Linked DNA regions of Homo sapiens: region 1 is linked to region 2. The links come from fine-mapping of genetic effects on gene expression. A gene starts in region 2. The other region holds a variant in brackets. All regions are shown on one strand. Distances are between the middles of the regions.

Region 1 (8,000 bases), 100 kb after region 2:
GGCAGGAGAATTGCTTGAACCCCGGAGGCGAAGGTTGCAGTGAGCCGAGATCATGACACTATATTCCAGCCCGGGTGACAGAGCAAGACTCCATCTCGGGGAAAAAAAAAATTTATTCTTGTTTCCATAAGCAAAAGGCTCATTGAAGACATCTTTTGAAAGGCACCTTATTCTAGAGTAAATTTCCTACTCTTGAATGAGACCCCTAAAAAGAATCGGTTTTAGTCCTTCTGCCCTGGGAACAAGAAAATCTAAGTGCATGGGGCCTCCGTGAGTGAGATTCGTCATAGTGCGCTGCAGCGATGGATCGGGAAATCCCAGGGTGAGAGGAACCAGCTCAGGGAATCAGCGAATTTATCTCGAGAGCCATGAGCCGTGGAACCGTGTTCCTCCACACACTCGGCTTCTCTTTTCTAAAGAGGGATTTTCCCTGCTCCAAGGGTTATCCTTTTTTTGGTTCCGAGCAGCGAGTGCTTCTGGGTCCTGAAGTCCTCTTCTTTGTTTAGGGAGATCCAGGACGAGGAGCTGAAGAAGTTCTGTTCCCGGATCTGTAAACTGCTGCAGGCGGAGGACTTGGGGCCGGACACCCTCGACTCCCTGCAGAGGCTCTTCCTCATCATCTCAGCCACGAAGTACAGCCGGAGGTGAGTGTGGCGACGGCTCAGGCCGGCTCCTCACACAGCGGCCCCAGGAGAACCCAGCCCACGCCCAGCAGGTCACTGCAGATGCTCCTTGGGGGTTGAGTCATTTGTCCACTTAAACCAGTGCTGAAGGTCCATCCTCATGTAAAATGCTCTGTCCACTGGCCCAAGGGTGCCCGGCCAGGTGCTCTGGGGCACCGGGTGCTCCTGCCACGGTCGTGACGTGTTACCGCCCACCACGGGCATCTCGCCTTCCAGGCTGGAGAAGACATGCGTAGACCTGCTGCAGGCCACCCTCGGCCTGCCTGCATGCCCCGAGCAGCTCCAGGTGCTTTGCGCCGCCATCCTGCGAGAGATGTCCCCCTCTGACAGCCTCAGCCTGGCCTGGGACCACACGCAGAACAGCCGGCAGCTGAGCCTGGTGGCCTCCGTTCTCTTGGCCCAGGTAGCGCAGCAGTCACCACCCCAGTTGGCACCGGATGGCTGCTTCCCAAGGAACAGGGGAGACAGGAAGCAGGGGCGCCAGAGCCGGCAGGTGGCTGCTTGTTGTAGACGCATCTCGGTGCTGAGTGCCTGGCACACTTGAGGCTGGGGCATGCCCTGTTGACTGGAACGGGGTCCCATGCCCAGCAGGCCCACGTGGTATGTTGGTGCTCAGGAGAGGTGGTGGAGTTTGGTTTCTCAGACAGAGCCTTGAGACAGCGAGTCAGTGGAGGCTGGGCCTCCAGACCTTCTTTTTGGGGTTTTTGTTTTGTTTTTTAGAAACAGGGTCTCACTCTGCTGTCCAGTGTAGAGTGCCATGGAGTGATCAATGCTCACTGCAGCCTCGACCTCCCTGGCTCAAGCAATCCTCCCATCTCAGCCTCCTGAGTAGCTGGGATTACAGGCATGCATCACCACACCCAGTTAATGTTTGTATTTTTTTGTAGGGACCTGGGGTCTCACTATGTTGCCCAGGCTGGTCTCAAACTTCTGGGCTCAAGCAATCCACCCTCCTTGGCCAGGAGTTTTTGCCAAGTCCATGTCCTCCCTCCCTCTGTGTCGGGAGCAGGCCTGGGCACTCAGCGTGGGGATCCAGGGGTTCACAGGCTGCCTTTGTGTGAGAGAAGCTGCTATCTCTGCTCATGGGTTGCCCAGGGGTGCAGAGTCTGCAGGAAGGTTGCGATGGAGCTGGGCTTTTCCCTCCGTTCCCAGCCTGCAGCGTCATGAGTTGCCTCCTGTGCTGGGGTGCAGCCTGCGGTTGCTTTAGTTCTGTGTGGGCGAGAGCTTGTGGGCCCCGGCGTACTCAGGGCGTTGTACTTCATCACTGGGGTCATCCTGGTTGGTGCCCAGCCCCCTCACCTCACAGACCTCCTGCAGGCCACCTCCAGGCCTCCGAGATGACCCCGGTAATGCTGTGGTAGCTCCTGGCCTTTGGAACAAGATGACTCCGGCTCTTCTTGTTTGTTTCACCCGCCCTTCTCCTCAAGCAACTCATTTTTTTCAGTGGAAGATGATCTTGCAGAACTGCTGCCAGGCGCCAGCGGTGCACCCCCCGCCCGGCACGTGGCCTCCCAGCCACCCAGCCGCCCTCCTCCCTGCCCTGACGGCCCTGCCCCTGTGCTGGGTGTCTCTGGTGCTGCTCAGATGTTTCAGCACCTGGGTGTGCAGAGTGAGGTGGGTGGTTTAAAGACTGGGATCCACACTGGAGGCCCCGCAGGACGGGGTGTCCTGTGTCTGCGGCCAGGGCCATGGTGGCCGCCAGTGTGTTTTTAGCATTGAATCAGCCGTGCCCTCACCCAGGCCCCCTCCAGCCTCAGCGATGCAGCTCCCAGGGAGAGAGGCTGGAGGCGGAGCAGGCACCTTGTGGCCCGGGGTGGGCCTGCGCGGGACATCCTCCCTGCCACCTGCTAGGCCGGGGTCTCAGCGACCGACGCTTCTCAGGAGTGTCACACAGACTTCCGAAATGGGGGAGCTGGTCTCTGGCACAGGCCAGTACCCCAGCGTTTGCCCTGTTTGATTTGAAGGGTGACAGAAACGAGGAGGTCAGAGCCGTGGGCCAGGGCGTGCTACGAGCGCTGGAGAGCCGGCAGCCTGAGGGACCCAGCCTCAGACACCTCCTCCCCGTCATGGCCAAGGTCGTGGTCCTCAGCCCGGGCACCCTCCAGGAGGGTACGCGGGGCCCCTCCCAAGAGGCTGTTGGGGGTCTGCCTTCCCAGGTCCTTCCCTGAGGGCCCATGGTGGGTTGGGAGTGTGGGGGGCAGGTGGGGGACACGGGGAGGCCCGAGGGTTTGGGACGCTGCAGGATTCTGTTTTCTGAGAAAAGTCGGCCAGCATCCCAACAACCCAGGCATCTGTAGGATTCAACCTCACCTCCCCATGCCACCCCACCCACTGCAGACCAGGCCACCCTGCTCAGCAAGCGGCTGGTCGACTGGCTGCGCTACGCCAGCCTCCAGCAAGGGCTCCCACACTCCGGCGGCTTCTTCTCCACGCCCAGGGCCCGGCAGGTGAGGCTGGGACTGTTCTGGAACCATGGGGAACAGAGTCACAGACAACCCCTCCCTGAGAGCTCCTGTGCCCACAGCGGCGAGGCCTGCTGTCGTTCCGCGGGGTCCAGGACGAGCCTGCCTCTGCTGCGGGGCTTGGGTCAGGCAGGGCCACAGCCCCCTGACCCGTGTGGCTCTGGGGGTCTGTGCGCGGGTTCAGTCCCAGGGCCTGCGGAGCAGGGTGTGCGACGCGCGTCTGCCTGGGGGTCAGGTGGGGATGGTGTTTTTGCATCACACAGGGCGGGCCGCTGCCCGGGCTCATGTTCAGGCAGCTTCTCCTCCACCTCCTGAGGAGCTTGTGCTAAAGGCTGGCGTTTTTCCCGGCCTCGGCCCCCTCCGCCCACTCCTGCCTGTCCTTCCCACAGCCGGGCCCCGTCACCGAGGTGGACGGGGCGGTAGCCACAGACTTCTTCACGGTGCTCTCCAGCGGCCACCGCTTCACAGACGACCAGTGGCTGAACGTGCAGGCCTTCTCTATGCTGCGGGCGTGGCTGCTGCACAGCGGCCCCGAGGGCCCGGGCACCCTGGACACAGGTGTGCGGGGTGGGGGGATGACGTCAGACAGGGGTGGGAGGTGGGCGCACTATGGGTTGGTCGCAGGGGGACACGGGCGGAGGTGGGGGGACTCGGGTGTGCCCAGGATGCAGCAGAGGTCAGGACTGAGCAACGCAGCCTGCTGACCTGGAGCTAGGCGGAGAGCACTCCCTGGCCAGCATCTTTGGGGTCCAGGGTCAGCACCGGGGATCCTCTGGACACCCCGTGACCCTCATGCAATGTGCAGATGTGAGAGCTCCCACTTAAGGCAGGCACCCTTAAGGTTGTTGGAGTGACGCCACTGAGCTCCTCCCGGCTGCTCTGTGGACTTGTTGGGGAAGAAGCCTCAGCCACCCTGAAGGGCGGCCGTGATGGGGAAGCTGCCGGGTGGGTGGACGTCCTGAGACGGTGACGCCTCACGCCTCCCGGGAGGGGCTGCGGCCTGTGCTCTCCTCCTGCCCTTCCAAGCAGGGCAGCAGGCATGTCCCAGCCCGGGAGCCACACGTCAGCCTGCTGAGAGTTCCCACCTCCCGCAGATGACAGGTCAGAGCAGGAGGGCTCCACTCTGTCGGTGATCTCCGCCACCTCCTCTGCCGGCCGCCTGCTGCCGCCCCGGGAGCGGCTTCGGGAGGTGGCCTTCGAGTACTGCCAGCGCCTCATTGAGCAAAGTAACCGACGTGAGTCCCCCACCCAGGGCACTGGCCTCCCCAGGGCTCGACGCACCTGCTCTGCAAGGCCACCTGAGGCCAGCACAGCTTCCCTGAGCTACTGCTCCACAGAGGGGGTCCCTGGGTAGCCGGTTTGGAGCAGGGGCATTTTTGCTTCTGGGGTCAGCCCCAAGTGTTCTTCAGGCTCCACCCCAGCCCCCAGCCCGGCCCTGTCCCACCTGGGCCCCTCGCCTCAGTCCCACTCAAGTCCTCCTGGGGGCCTGTCCCACCCCCCTGCTCCCGGTCCTGCCTGGAGCTTCCAGAGCACAAGCTGCCCCCTCATTGGGCCACTCTAAGGCTGAGACAGAGCCGGCTGACTTTTTCCCCTCCTTCCAGGAGCCCTGAGGAAGGGGGACTCCGACCTGCAGAAAGCTGTAAGTGGCTGGGGACCAGGGGATGGGAGGCAGCGACTCGGCCCATTTGATGTGGT[C/T]CATGTCCCGCAGTGCCTGGTGGAGGCCGTGCTGGTGCTGGACGTGCTGTGCCGGCAGGACCCGTCCTTCCTGTACCGAAGTCTCTCCTGCCTGAAGGCCCTGCACGGGCGGGTGCGCGGGGACCCGGCCTCTGTGCGGGTGCTGCTGCCCCTCGCCCACTTCTTCCTGAGCCACGGTGAGCCCAGGGTGGGGTGGCGCTGACTCGGGGCTCTGCTTCTGCCTTTAGTTTTAGGATGGAATTTCTTCTTCCCTTTTTTTTTTTTTTTTTTTTGATTGAATAGAGACAGGGGTCTTGCTGTGTTGCCCAGGCTGGTCTGGAACTCGTGGCCTCAAGCGATCCTCCTGCCTTGGCCTCCCAAAGTGCTGGGATTACGGGCATGAGCCACCGTGCCCAGCTCATATTTCTTTTTGATGGATTGCTGTGCCAGATGTTGGTAATTTTTAAACTTTTAAATAGAGAAATAAACAGACTCTTTTTGCTGTGTCCCTAGCCCAGGAAACCTGAAAGTCTAGGAACCAGCACCTTCCAAAGAATGTGCCATAGTGTGTGTGACTCACGAGCTGTCCGTGTCCCTGGGCGAGGGAGACCAAGTGCCGCTTCCCCAGCGTCCCAGCGTAGGACGCCTCGGAGCCCTTGGTGTCCTGGAGAGCAGGCCTGAGACTCAGGGCCCCTAACCAGTCACAGAAGCACGGCCAGGGCGAGGTCAAGACGTGTGCCCTGGCGGGCCCTGGTCTTGCAGGGGAAGCGGCTGCAGTGGACTCGGAAGCCGTCTACCAGCACCTGTTCACCAGGATCCCGGTGGAGCAGTTCCACAGCCCCATGCTGGCCTTTGAATTCATCCAGTTCTGCAGGGACAACCTCCACCTGTTCAGCGGGCACCTCAGCACCCTCAGATTGAGCTTCCCCAACCTCTTTAAGGTATATTTGGGCATCCCTGGGTGCCAGGGCAGGGGCATGGTAAGTCCCTGGGGCTCCTCCCCTCTTTCCAGCGGGGTTCAGGGCGAGTCCTGGCTGAGCATAGAGCCCTGTGAGTCCCGGGCCTGGAATGCGGTGTGCAGGGTGAGGTGGGGATCTGGGGTGTCCCTGCAGCGTCACGTGATTGACGGTGCTGTCCAAGAACTCCCTTGTGGGTGTTTTGGAGAGGGGGCTGTGACACAAGACGGTGAGTTTGTTCTCACAGCACTGGGGCAGGGCTGCTGCCTGGTAGGATCCCTCCCCCGGGAGCCCTGCCTGGTGCCTTGGGCACTTGGGTGCCATTTGCCTTTTTTTTTTCTTTTGAGATGGAGTCTCATTCCTGTCACCTAGGCTGGAGTGCAGTGGCGCAATCTCAGCTCACTGCAACCCCCGCCTCCTGGGTTCAAGCGATTCTCCTGCGTCAGCCACCTGAGTAGTTGAGATTACAGGCACCCACCACCATGTCCAGCTAATTTTTGGTATTTTTAGTAGAGATGGGGTTTCGACATGTTGGCCAGGCTGGTCTCGAACTCCTGACCTCAGATGATCCTCCTGCCTTGACCTCCCAAAGTGCTGGGATTACAGGCATGAGCCACCGCACCCGGCCTGGTGCCATTTGCTTTTGAAGTGTCTTTTGCAGCCTCGCCTCGCTGTAAGGTCTTTTCAACTGAGGTGGGGAATCCTCTTTCTGGAGAAAAACCAGGACAGTGGAAAATTATTGACCTGTTGGTACGAAAGTAGATACAGGCTGGGGGCAGTGGCTCACACCTGTAATCCCAGCACCTCGGGAGGCCAAGGCAGGAGGATCTTGAGGCCAGGAGTTCAAGACCAGCCTGGGCAACACAGGGAGACCTCTTGTCTACAAAAAGTAAACAGCCTCACATGGTGGTGTGTGCCTGTAGTCTCAGCTGCTCAGGAGGCTGAGGTGGGAGGATCACTTGAGCCTGGGAGGTTGAGGTTGCAGTGAGCTATGATTGCACCACTGCACTCCAGCCTGGGCGACAGAGCAAGACCCTGTCTCAAAAAAATAAAAAGCGGGAGGAGGCAAAGGTAGAAGCCCTCCTGGGGACTGCAGGTCTGGGACAGCTGTGGGGCCCTAGCTGGCTCCTCCCTCTGCCGCCTGCTCCACAGCTCCGAGCCGTGTCCGAACCGCTGTGCTGTGCCCACAGTTCCTGGCCTGGAACAGCCCACCCCTCACCTCCGAGTTTGTGGCGCTCCTCCCGGCCCTGGTGGACGCTGGCACAGCCCTGGAGATGCTGCACGCGCTGCTGGACCTGCCCTGCTTGACGGCGGTGCTGGACCTGCAGCTCAGGTGGGCCCCTCACCCTCTGCCAGCGCTGCGTCTCCCAGCCAGCTGGTTCCACACACTGGGCCCCCTCCTCGCTGCTCCTGACCCCTACACCGGGGACCCTCCTTCTTCCCCCCCCAACACCTGACCAGTCCTCCCCTGCAAAGCCACCTCTAGGACAGGGTGTGTCTGTCACCCTTGGCCACTTGCCAAGGGCAGCCCCTGCACCCTGGAGTGCCTCACCCGTCTTCACGCCCAGGCCTGGAGCCTCCCATGCCAAGCCCTTCCTGGCACCCGAGGTGCTGTGATATTAGGGACACCTGCCGTGTGTCTCCCTGACGGGGGTGCCCTTGAGTGCAGGGGCCGCATCCCAGCCTGGCCTTGGGCGTCTGTCCACGCAGGTCAGCACCGGCTGCATCCGAGAGGCCACTCTGGGACACCTCTCTCAGGGCCCCCAGCTGCCTGGAGGCCTTCCGGGACCCGCAGTTCCAGGGTCTTTTCCAATACCTGCTGCGCCCCAAGGCCAGTGGCGCCACTGAGAGGTACGGGGCCCTAGGGCCAGGGGGCCACCAGTGGCTCAGAGAGCCCGGCCACAGCCACTGGGGTGGGGCTCACTGCTCAGCCCTAGGCTGAGGCCAGGGTGCTTTGTGTCCCACACAAGGCTGCGTCCCCGTCATCACCATTATAGAGGCCCTGCTTCTGCACCACGGGTCTGCCGGGGGCGGGGCCTGGTCTCAGCTCTCTCTGCTGCCCACATCAACCCTCATAAGCTTGGAGGTTGGCCCTGTGGGTGCTCCATTTTGCAGATGGACAAACCGAGCCTGAGCCCAGGAAGCAGGAGGCCTGGGACCGGCCACAGGCCTCCTGCCCTCAGCCCACGCCAGCCTTTGTCCCGATGGCTTTACTGTCCCGGGTG
Region 2 (8,506 bases):
ACGTATGTCAGAGTTTCCTTCCTTTTCAAGTCTGAATCATACCCCACTGTATGTGGTACCACAGGGGTAAACGCACACTTGGATTGCTTCCACCTTCTGGATCTCGTGAATAAATAACGCTGCTGTGAACATAGCATGCAAGTATCTCTTCAAGACCCTGCTTGCAATTCTTTGGGGGTATAAACCCAGAAGTGGAAGTCTGCATTGCATCTTATGGGAACTCTAGTTTGTTTATTTATTTATTTATTCGTTTATTTATTGAGACAGAGCTTCGCTCTGTCACCCAGACTGGAGCGCAATGGCATGATCTCAGATCACTGCAACCTCTGCCTTCCAGGTTCAAGCAATCCTCATGCCTTAGCCTCCCGAGCGGCTGGGACAGGTGCCCACCACCACGCCTGGCTCATTTTTTTGTATTTTTGGTAGTGACAGGGTTTCACCGTGTTGGCCAGGCTGGTCTGAAACTCCTAACCTCAGGTGATCACCCATCTGAGCCTCTCAAAGTGCTGGGATTACAGGTGAGAGCCACTGGGCCCGGCCTCGTTTTAACTTTTTGAGGACCCTGCATGCTGTTTCCCACAGAGGCTGCCCTGTGTTCCATTCCCACCAACAGTGTGTGTAAATGCCTTTGCAGGAAATCAGTATCTCCTGCATCCCTCTGCTTCTCTGCACCTCTCTCCTTTCACCTCTCTCGCTGGTCTCCAGCTTCCTGAGCAACCTCCGCCATCACTCTGACCTATTTCCAGTTCAGGATCCCCATGGCCGCTAGAGTGATTGCATTTCAGATACTGCATGTCGGTGTGCCTGCTGTCTTGCACGTAAAGCCCCTCAGTGGCTTCCCATTGCTCTAGGATCAGCCCCAGATCCTATAGGACCCACCTCAGCCCTTCTTCCCTCCTGGTTCAGCTGAACATGGCCACTCGGTTCCACACACAGTGACCACCTGCCTACCCCTCCACGGCCCATACTTCCTTCTGTATCACACAGAGTTCCCTGGCAGGGGCACTACCCTCACAGTCTCACACCACTTCCCTAATCAGGCATCCCTTAGACCTCAAGGAGGAGCCCCCTGACTCTGTTTACCATCCCCCCCACCTCAATCAAGCAGGTACTCAAGTTACTGCTCCTGCTAAAAATGCGTTCCTTGGCCGGTCACGGTGGCTGACGCCTGTAACCCCAGCACTTTGGGAGTCCGAGGCAGGTGGATCATGAGGTCAAGAGATCGAGACAACCCTGGCCAACCTGGTGAAACCCCATCTCTACTAAAAATACAAAAATTACCTGGGCATGGTGGCACACACCTGTAGTACCAGTTACTTGGGAGGCTGAGGCAGGAGGATTGCTTGAACCCTGGAGGCAGAGGTTGCAGTGAGCCGAGATCGCACCACTGCACTCTAGCTTGGCAACAGAGCGAGACTCTGTCTCAAAAAAAAAAAAAAAAAAAAAAAAAAAAAGCTTTCCTTGCCTCCCAAACACTTATCTCTGCATGCACATATTCAAGGCTGAGAGATGAGATTAATACCTATTTCAGCCCCAGACTGGAGCGTGGGTGTGCAGGTCAGGGAAGCTCCTGCCTTAGACAGGCCCAGTCTCTCGTTTACACTTGCACGTCACCATGCACCAGTCCCTCACCGGATGTATCACAGCTGTGACTTGATTTTACTTTTTCTAGGATGTGTCTTTGATTTATGTCTGCATCTCCCCCTCAACTATAAGCTCCACCAGGGAGGGAACTGTGTCTCCTTTCCCACCCTTAATAATTCGTAAATGAGGGAAATGTGGAAACTGCACCGCCTTTTTAGGGGAACCTGAACTGGCAATGGAGGACCAGGCTACTGAAGTCCGAAAGGGATCCCAATGATGCCCACGTTTGCCACTCCCTGTTTTCAGCTAAGATTTCTCTCTGGGGCATTCTCTCAGATCTGTCTTAGCTGGATCTAGCATATTGAATGAGTGAAGGGCTCCAGAAAGAAAGAGAGATAGGCTGGGCGTGGTGGCTCACGCCTGTAACCCAGCATTTGGGGAGGCTGAGGTGGCAGACTGCTTGAGCCCCAAAGTTGAACACCAACTTGGGCAATATAATGAGACCCTGTCTCTATAAAAAAATTGAAAAAGGCCAGGTGAGGCGGCTCCCGCCTGCAGCCCCAGCACTTTAGGAGGTCGAGGCAGGTGGATCACCTGAGGTCAGGAGTTTGAGACCAGCTTCACCAACATGGTTGAAACCCCGTCTCTACTAAAAATACAAAAATTAGCTGGGTGTGGTGGCAGATGCCTGTAATCCCAGCGACTTGGGAGGCTGAGGCAGGAGAATCGGTTGCAGTGAGCCGAGACTGCACCATTACACTCCAGCCTGGGTGACAGATTAAGACTCTGCCTTAAAAAAAAAAAAAATTAAAAATTAGTCGGGCATGGTGGCTCATAGTCCCAGCTACTTGGGAGGGTGAGGTGGGAAAATCACCTGAGCCCTGAAGGTTGAGGCTGCAGTGAGCTATGATTGTACCACTGCACTCCAGCCTGGGTGACAGAGTGAGACCCTGTCTCAAAAGAAAAAGACAAGAAAGAGAGAGAAGGAAGGAAGGGAGGGAGGGAGGGAAAGAAAGGAAGGAAGGAAGGAAGGAAGGAAGGAAGGAAGGAAGGAAGGAAGGAAGGAAGGCAGGCAGGCGGCCGGGCACGGTGGCTCCCGCCTGTAATCCCAGGACTTTGGGAGGCTGAGGCGGGCAGATCACCTGAGGTCGGGTTTTCAGGACTAGTCTGACCAACACGGAGAAACCCCATCTCTACTAAAAAAATACAAAATGAGCCGGGCCTGGTGGTACATGACTGTAATCCCAGCTACTTGGGAGGCTGAGGCAGGAGAATTGCTTGAATCCAGGGGGTGGAGGTTGCGTTGAGTCGAGATTGCGCCATTGCACTACAGCCTGGGCAACAAGAGCGAAACTCCGTCTCAAAAAAAAAAAAAAAGAAGGAAGGAAGGAAGGGAAGAAAGAAAGGAAGGAAGGAAGGAAAGGAGGAAGGAAGGAAGGAAGGAAAGGAAGGAAGGAAATGGAGGGAGGAAGGGAGGGAGGGAAGGAAGGAAAGGAAGGAAGGAAGGAAAGGAAAGGAAGGAAGGGAAGGAAAGGAAGGAAGGGAAGGGAAGGAAGGAGAGGAAGGGAAGGGAGGGAGGAAGGGAAGGAAGGAAGGAAAGAAGGGAGGGAGGGAAGGAAGGAAGGAAAGGAAGGAAGGAAAGGAAAGGAAGGAAGGAAAGGGAGGGAGGAAGGAAGAGAGGGAGGGAAGGAAGGAAGGAAAGGAAGGAAGGGAAGGGAAAGAAGGAGAGGAAGGGAAGGGAGGGAGGAAGGGAAGGAAGGAAGGAAGGAAAGAAGGGAGGGAAGGAAGGAATGAAGGGAAGGGAAGGAATGAAGGGAAGGAAGGGAAGGAAGGAAGGAAGGAAAGAAGGAAGGAAGGATGGATCAGGGATTCAGGGATGGATCTCAAGTGGTCTTCAGTTACAGTAGAGTATGATGACCTTTAATCTGAGGGCTTAAGAATGATCAGGCCTGGCACTGTGGCTCACACGGGTAATCCCAGTGCTTTGGGAGGTCGAGATAGATAGATCACTTGAGACCAGGAGTTTGAGACCAGCCTGGCCAACATAGCAAGACCCTGTCTCTATAAGAAGTAAAAAAATTAGCTGGGCGTGGTGGCACTTGTGAGGCAGAGGCAGGAGGGTGACTTGGGCACAGGAGGTGGAAGCTGCAGTGAGCTATGATTTTGCCACCGCACTGCAGCCTGGGCGACAGAGCGAGGTTAGAATATAAACATATGTATTGTATATAATACACATATATTTTATCTTCTGTCTATCTTACACTTTAGGGTTGGGGGCCTGGAGTGTCTGGGGCGGGGAGACTGCTGAGGTCATCCGTCCCTTTCTCCAATGACCCAGGCTCAAAACTTTGTGGCTGGGCATTTCAGGGGTCCCCTCTTCCCCCTGGATGGAGGAAAGGGCGCCCGCCGCCTGCAGCCCCGCGGGGAGGGGACGAGGTGCGCCGGGCCCAGCTCTCCCGGGGGCCCGCCGGCCCTCCCGGCACAGGCCTCGCCCCCAGCCCCGCGCTGGCGCGCGCCACGTGGGCTACGCTGGGCGGGACCGGCGGGCGGGCGAGGCGAGGCGCACGGTGGGCTGGGAGGCTCCGCTCCGCGCCGGCGCGATCTGGCCCGGGTTTCCGCGCCCGCCCAGCGCCCCGACCTCCCCGCCCCCCGCGCCGCCGCTGCAGCCGCCGCCGCCGGAGGCCGCTCGGAGCCGCGCGAACATGGCCGAAGTCGGCGAGGACAGCGGCGCCCGCGCCCTGCTCGCGCTGCGCTCGGCGCCCTGCAGCCCAGTGCTGTGCGCCGCAGCCGCCGCCGCCGCCTTCCCCGCGGCCGCACCCCCGCCGGCCCCCGCGCAGCCCCAGCCTCCGCCCGGGCCGCCGCCGCCGCCGCCACCGCCGCTGCCTCCGGGCGCGATCGCGGGCGCGGGCTCCTCCGGGGGCTCCTCCGGGGTATCCGGGGACTCCGCGGTCGCGGGCGCGGCGCCGGCCCTGGTGGCCGCGGCGGCCGCCTCGGTACGGCAGAGCCCGGGGCCGGCGCTGGCGCGGCTGGAGGGCCGCGAGTTCGAGTTCCTCATGCGCCAGCCCAGCGTCACCATCGGCCGCAACTCGTCGCAGGGCTCGGTGGACTTGAGCATGGGCCTGTCCAGCTTCATCTCGCGGCGCCACCTGCAGCTCAGCTTCCAGGAGCCGCACTTCTACCTGCGCTGCCTCGGCAAGAACGGCGTCTTCGTGGACGGGGCCTTCCAGAGACGCGGCGCGCCCGCCCTGCAGCTGCCCAAGCAGTGAGTGGCCCCGCGACCCCCGCCGCCCGCACCCGGGGCTCGCCCACGACCTCGATCTCTGAGGCCCGGGCCTGGGGATCCCCCTCCAGCTTCCTCGGCCTCGACCCCCACCCCCCGGCCCACCCCCGGTAACCCCCGACCGGCCTGGACTCCGGGGTCAACCCCGACCCCCGCCTCCTGGCTCCCTAGGATCACCCCGACCCCGATCCTGGAGGCTCCAGCCTGAGGATCTCCTCCACTTTCCCCGGTCTGGATACCCCGTCGCCCCCGACCCCCACCGGCCTGGACTCTGGGGTCAGCCCTGACCCACACCTTGCGGCTCCTGGGGTCACCCCTGACCTCATCTCCCACCGGCCTGGGCTCCTGGAGCCACCCATACCCCAAGCCCATCTGGCTGGGCCTCTTAGACCCCTGACCCAGATCCCTGCTGCTCCCCAGCTCCCATCGGCCTGGACTCCGGGGTCATTCTGAACTCCCACTGGCCTGGATCCCTGGGGTCATCTACGTCCCTACCCTGCCTAAACACGCAAGGTTAACCGCGACCCCCACTTCCTAGGCCCCCCCGGAGTCACCCCTGACCGCTAACCCCACAAGCCTGGGCTCGCAGGGCCACTCCCACCCCAGCTCCACCCAGCTGGGTTACTGAGGTCACCTTGACCCCAGTCCCTGCTGCCTGGGCCTGGGGATCACCCTCAACCCTTCCAGGTCACCCTGGACCCCCACCAGCTTGGACTCCAGGGTCACCCCAGCCTGACCTGGTTCTCAGGACCACCCCCGACCCCCACCAGCCAGGGCCTCAAGTCACCCCAGTGCCTGATGCCTGCCGTCCTGGACCCCAGTGGCTACCCCTGACCCTGTCTGGTCTGGACCCTTGGGCCACCCCCACCCCATCCAGTCTGGGTCCTGGGGGACCCCAACACACTCACCCAGGACAGTGGGAGGGTGTTGCTCCGGGAAGTGCGAGGTCCCTAGGAGTGTGGGCTGTGCTGAAGGAGCAGAGGCCTGGCGGGGAGGGGCGAGGACAGGAAGCCTGTGCCTCAGTTTACATCCCCAACTAGTGCTCCTTGGATGGAGTAGCGGGACCCCAAGATCAAATTAGATTCCCCCGGGCCCGAGGTCACCAGGGCAGAGAGACCCAGCTGGGCCTGGACGGCTGCCCAGGCCTGTCGGTGCCTTTGGTAGCATCCCGTGGTCACCTCCCGCCCATTCCGGTTCCCTCCTTTCCAGCTCCACTGCCCTCCGCACCCTCTGCTCTGCCCCGGACCTCAAGGTCTGTTGATCAGGAGAAAGCCTGTTTAATTACTCATTTCCTCTGGAGCCACTTTCTTTTTCTATTTAGTGATTGCCTCTAACTCATCACCAGTGTTTATATTTCTTCAATGTGGTTCTTGTTCAGGGTTGTCTGTCTAATTACTCCCTTTTATAAACGCCTTGCGTCTGGGGAATTTTTGCTGGGGTAATTCCCAGGGCCCAAAGTTTGTGTCTGTAAACTTCTCCCCTTTTTTAGTCTTGGCATGTTTGGTTACAGATATCGCATTGAATAATTTAAAATGCAACATCAACAATGACTCACTCCCCCTTGGGGCGTGAGAGGGGAAGTATACCTTTTTCTAACCGTGCTGAAAGGTGTGCATTTTGGTAAAATCAGAACTCAGGAGATAACAAATTTGTTCTTTGCCTCAGATATTAGTGTGTTCTCTCTCTTCCATAACCAATACACTCTCTCCGTTTGGGGCCATTAAATGCATTTCCTGGCCACTCTCCCCTCCAGTAAGAAAATGACAGGTAGGCTCCCCAGGCCCCCCTTAGAGGCCTGCTTTACAGACGCACCTTTATATAACTCAGGTTCACTAAGTACTTCCATTAAAGTCTTGTTTTCAGGTTTCCTGCCCCTGCCGTGGAAACAGGTGCACTCCTGAGTCAGGCCCAGCTTTAGTGAATCTTGAAGGAGGCTTTCACGGTATTTTTTTTTTGTAATTCAAGGGGAAAAAATTTCAACCTCAGATCGTCTACGAATAGGCCAGTAGCAAGCCTGTTATTTATGAAATGTTATCGGTGTATACAGTCCTTGCACATTTATGCTCCAGGGAGCTCGTGTTCTCGGTGGGTGCATTACCAGGCATTGTGGTGGGGCTGTCAGGCTACACAGATGCCCGCCCGCTGACTTGGTGCATTAGATGTGCGTGAAGTGCTTGGCCCACTGCGCCTGTCTGTTTTTATTTGACTTCACCTGCACATGTGAGCAATATCTATGTAGGCAGCAATGTAAAATTTACAAGAACAAAGCAAATGTGCAGAAGGAAAAACATTAAGTGGATGTCCATGTCCACCCTCCTAGAAAAGAGCTATTTGCTTTTTTTTTTTTTTTTTTTTCTGTCATGGAGTCTCGCTCTGTTGTCCAGACTGGAGTGCAGTGGCTCACTGCAAACTCTACCTCCCGGGTTCAAGAGATTCTCCTGCCTCAGCCTCCTGAGTGGCTGGGACTACAGGCGCACAACACCACGCCCAGCTAATTCTTTGTATTTTTAGTAGAGATGGGGTTTCACCGTGTTAGCCAAGATGGTCTCGATCTCCTGACCTCGTGATCTGCCTGCCTTAGCTTCCCAAAGTGCTGGGATTACAGGCATACAGGCGTGAGCCCCTGCGCCCGGCCTCACTTTTTTTTTTTTTTTTTTTAATTTTAGAAAACTTACACCTAAGTAGTCACATATGTAGAACAGGCTGTCATAAACTTTTTTGGTTAGGTAAAGATTCTTAAGCCTGGACTACATTTGGTTAGGTAAAGATTCTTAAGCCTGGACTACAGCCTCACGCCTGTAATCTCAGCACTTTGGGAGGCCAAGGCGGGTGGATCACTTGAGTTCAGGAGTTCAAGACCACCCTGGCCAATGTGGCAAAACCCTGTCTCTACTAAAAATACAAAAATTAGCTTGGCGTGGTGGATCACGCCTGTAGTCCCAGCTACTTGGGAGGCTGAGACAGAAGAATCGCTTGAACCCGGGAGGTGGAGGTTGCAGTGAGCTGAGATCACGCCACTGCACTCCAGCCTGGGCAACAGAGCAAGACTCCATCTCAATAAAAAACAAAATGAAAAAAAAAAAACCAAAAAACGATTCTTAAGCCTATTATGTTGAAAGTCATTAAGAAATTTTAAGGATTTCAGCGCAAGGAAGTTAGATGCGTAAGTTTTTGTCACCCTGAATGGGAAATTCATCACCGAATGTCAGGAATTACTGTGTCTGTTTTCTCTCCGGCTTTGGTACCTGGTATTGCCACTGCTACTGGAAATTGTGAATTTGTTTACTGTAAACTACAGATTCTCTTGCTGTGTTGGAATGTGATTGCCTTGGACGTGCTTGGATTTGGTGGGAGGTCTATGTTGTGTTGGTGCCCACACCATTTTCCAAAGCTGTGTTGTCCGGGGCCACCCTCTTCACCTTGGGACAGGTACATGCCACACACACTTCCAGTAGAGCTCCCACTCAGGAAGGATGCCAGAATTCAACCCCTATTTGTTACTGGAAGTACGTAATTCCAAATCTTCAATATTTTTAATTATTGGTGGGGGAAAAAAAAGACTTGTGACCCAGCTTAGAGCTGATCTTGCTCTACTGGGTGACACTACGCCTGGTGGGTAAGCATCTCGCCAGAGCTCCCAGG

The links. PIP is the estimated chance that this variant, and not a neighbour inherited with it, causes the effect.
Region 1: its variant is the best candidate, but not a certain one, in a credible set for the expression of FOXK1 in whole blood (INTERVAL, PIP 0.61).

The regions. Positions count from the first base shown.
Region 1 is chr7:4,780,669-4,788,668 of GRCh38, forward strand. It overlaps AP5Z1 (adaptor related protein complex 5 subunit zeta 1), which reads left to right. Exons shown (of 17, transcript NM_014855.3): 2 at 507-644; 3 at 900-1,086; 4 at 2,648-2,792; 5 at 3,021-3,130; 6 at 3,535-3,703; 7 at 4,240-4,380; 8 at 4,747-4,784; 9 at 4,854-5,016; 10 at 5,582-5,760; 11 at 6,966-7,108; 12 at 7,486-7,626. MIR4656 (microRNA 4656) reads right to left here and starts at 7,971; the gene lies at 7,897-7,971. The variant C/T (reference allele first, on the strand shown) is at 4,841.
Region 2 is chr7:4,678,023-4,686,528 of GRCh38, forward strand. It overlaps FOXK1 (forkhead box K1), which reads left to right and starts at 4,273. Exons shown (of 9, transcript NM_001037165.2): 1 at 4,273-4,846. The coding sequence starts at 4,287. RefSeq lists enhancers at 3,274-3,774, 3,976-4,270, 5,130-5,657 and silencers at 3,984-4,353, 4,504-4,573.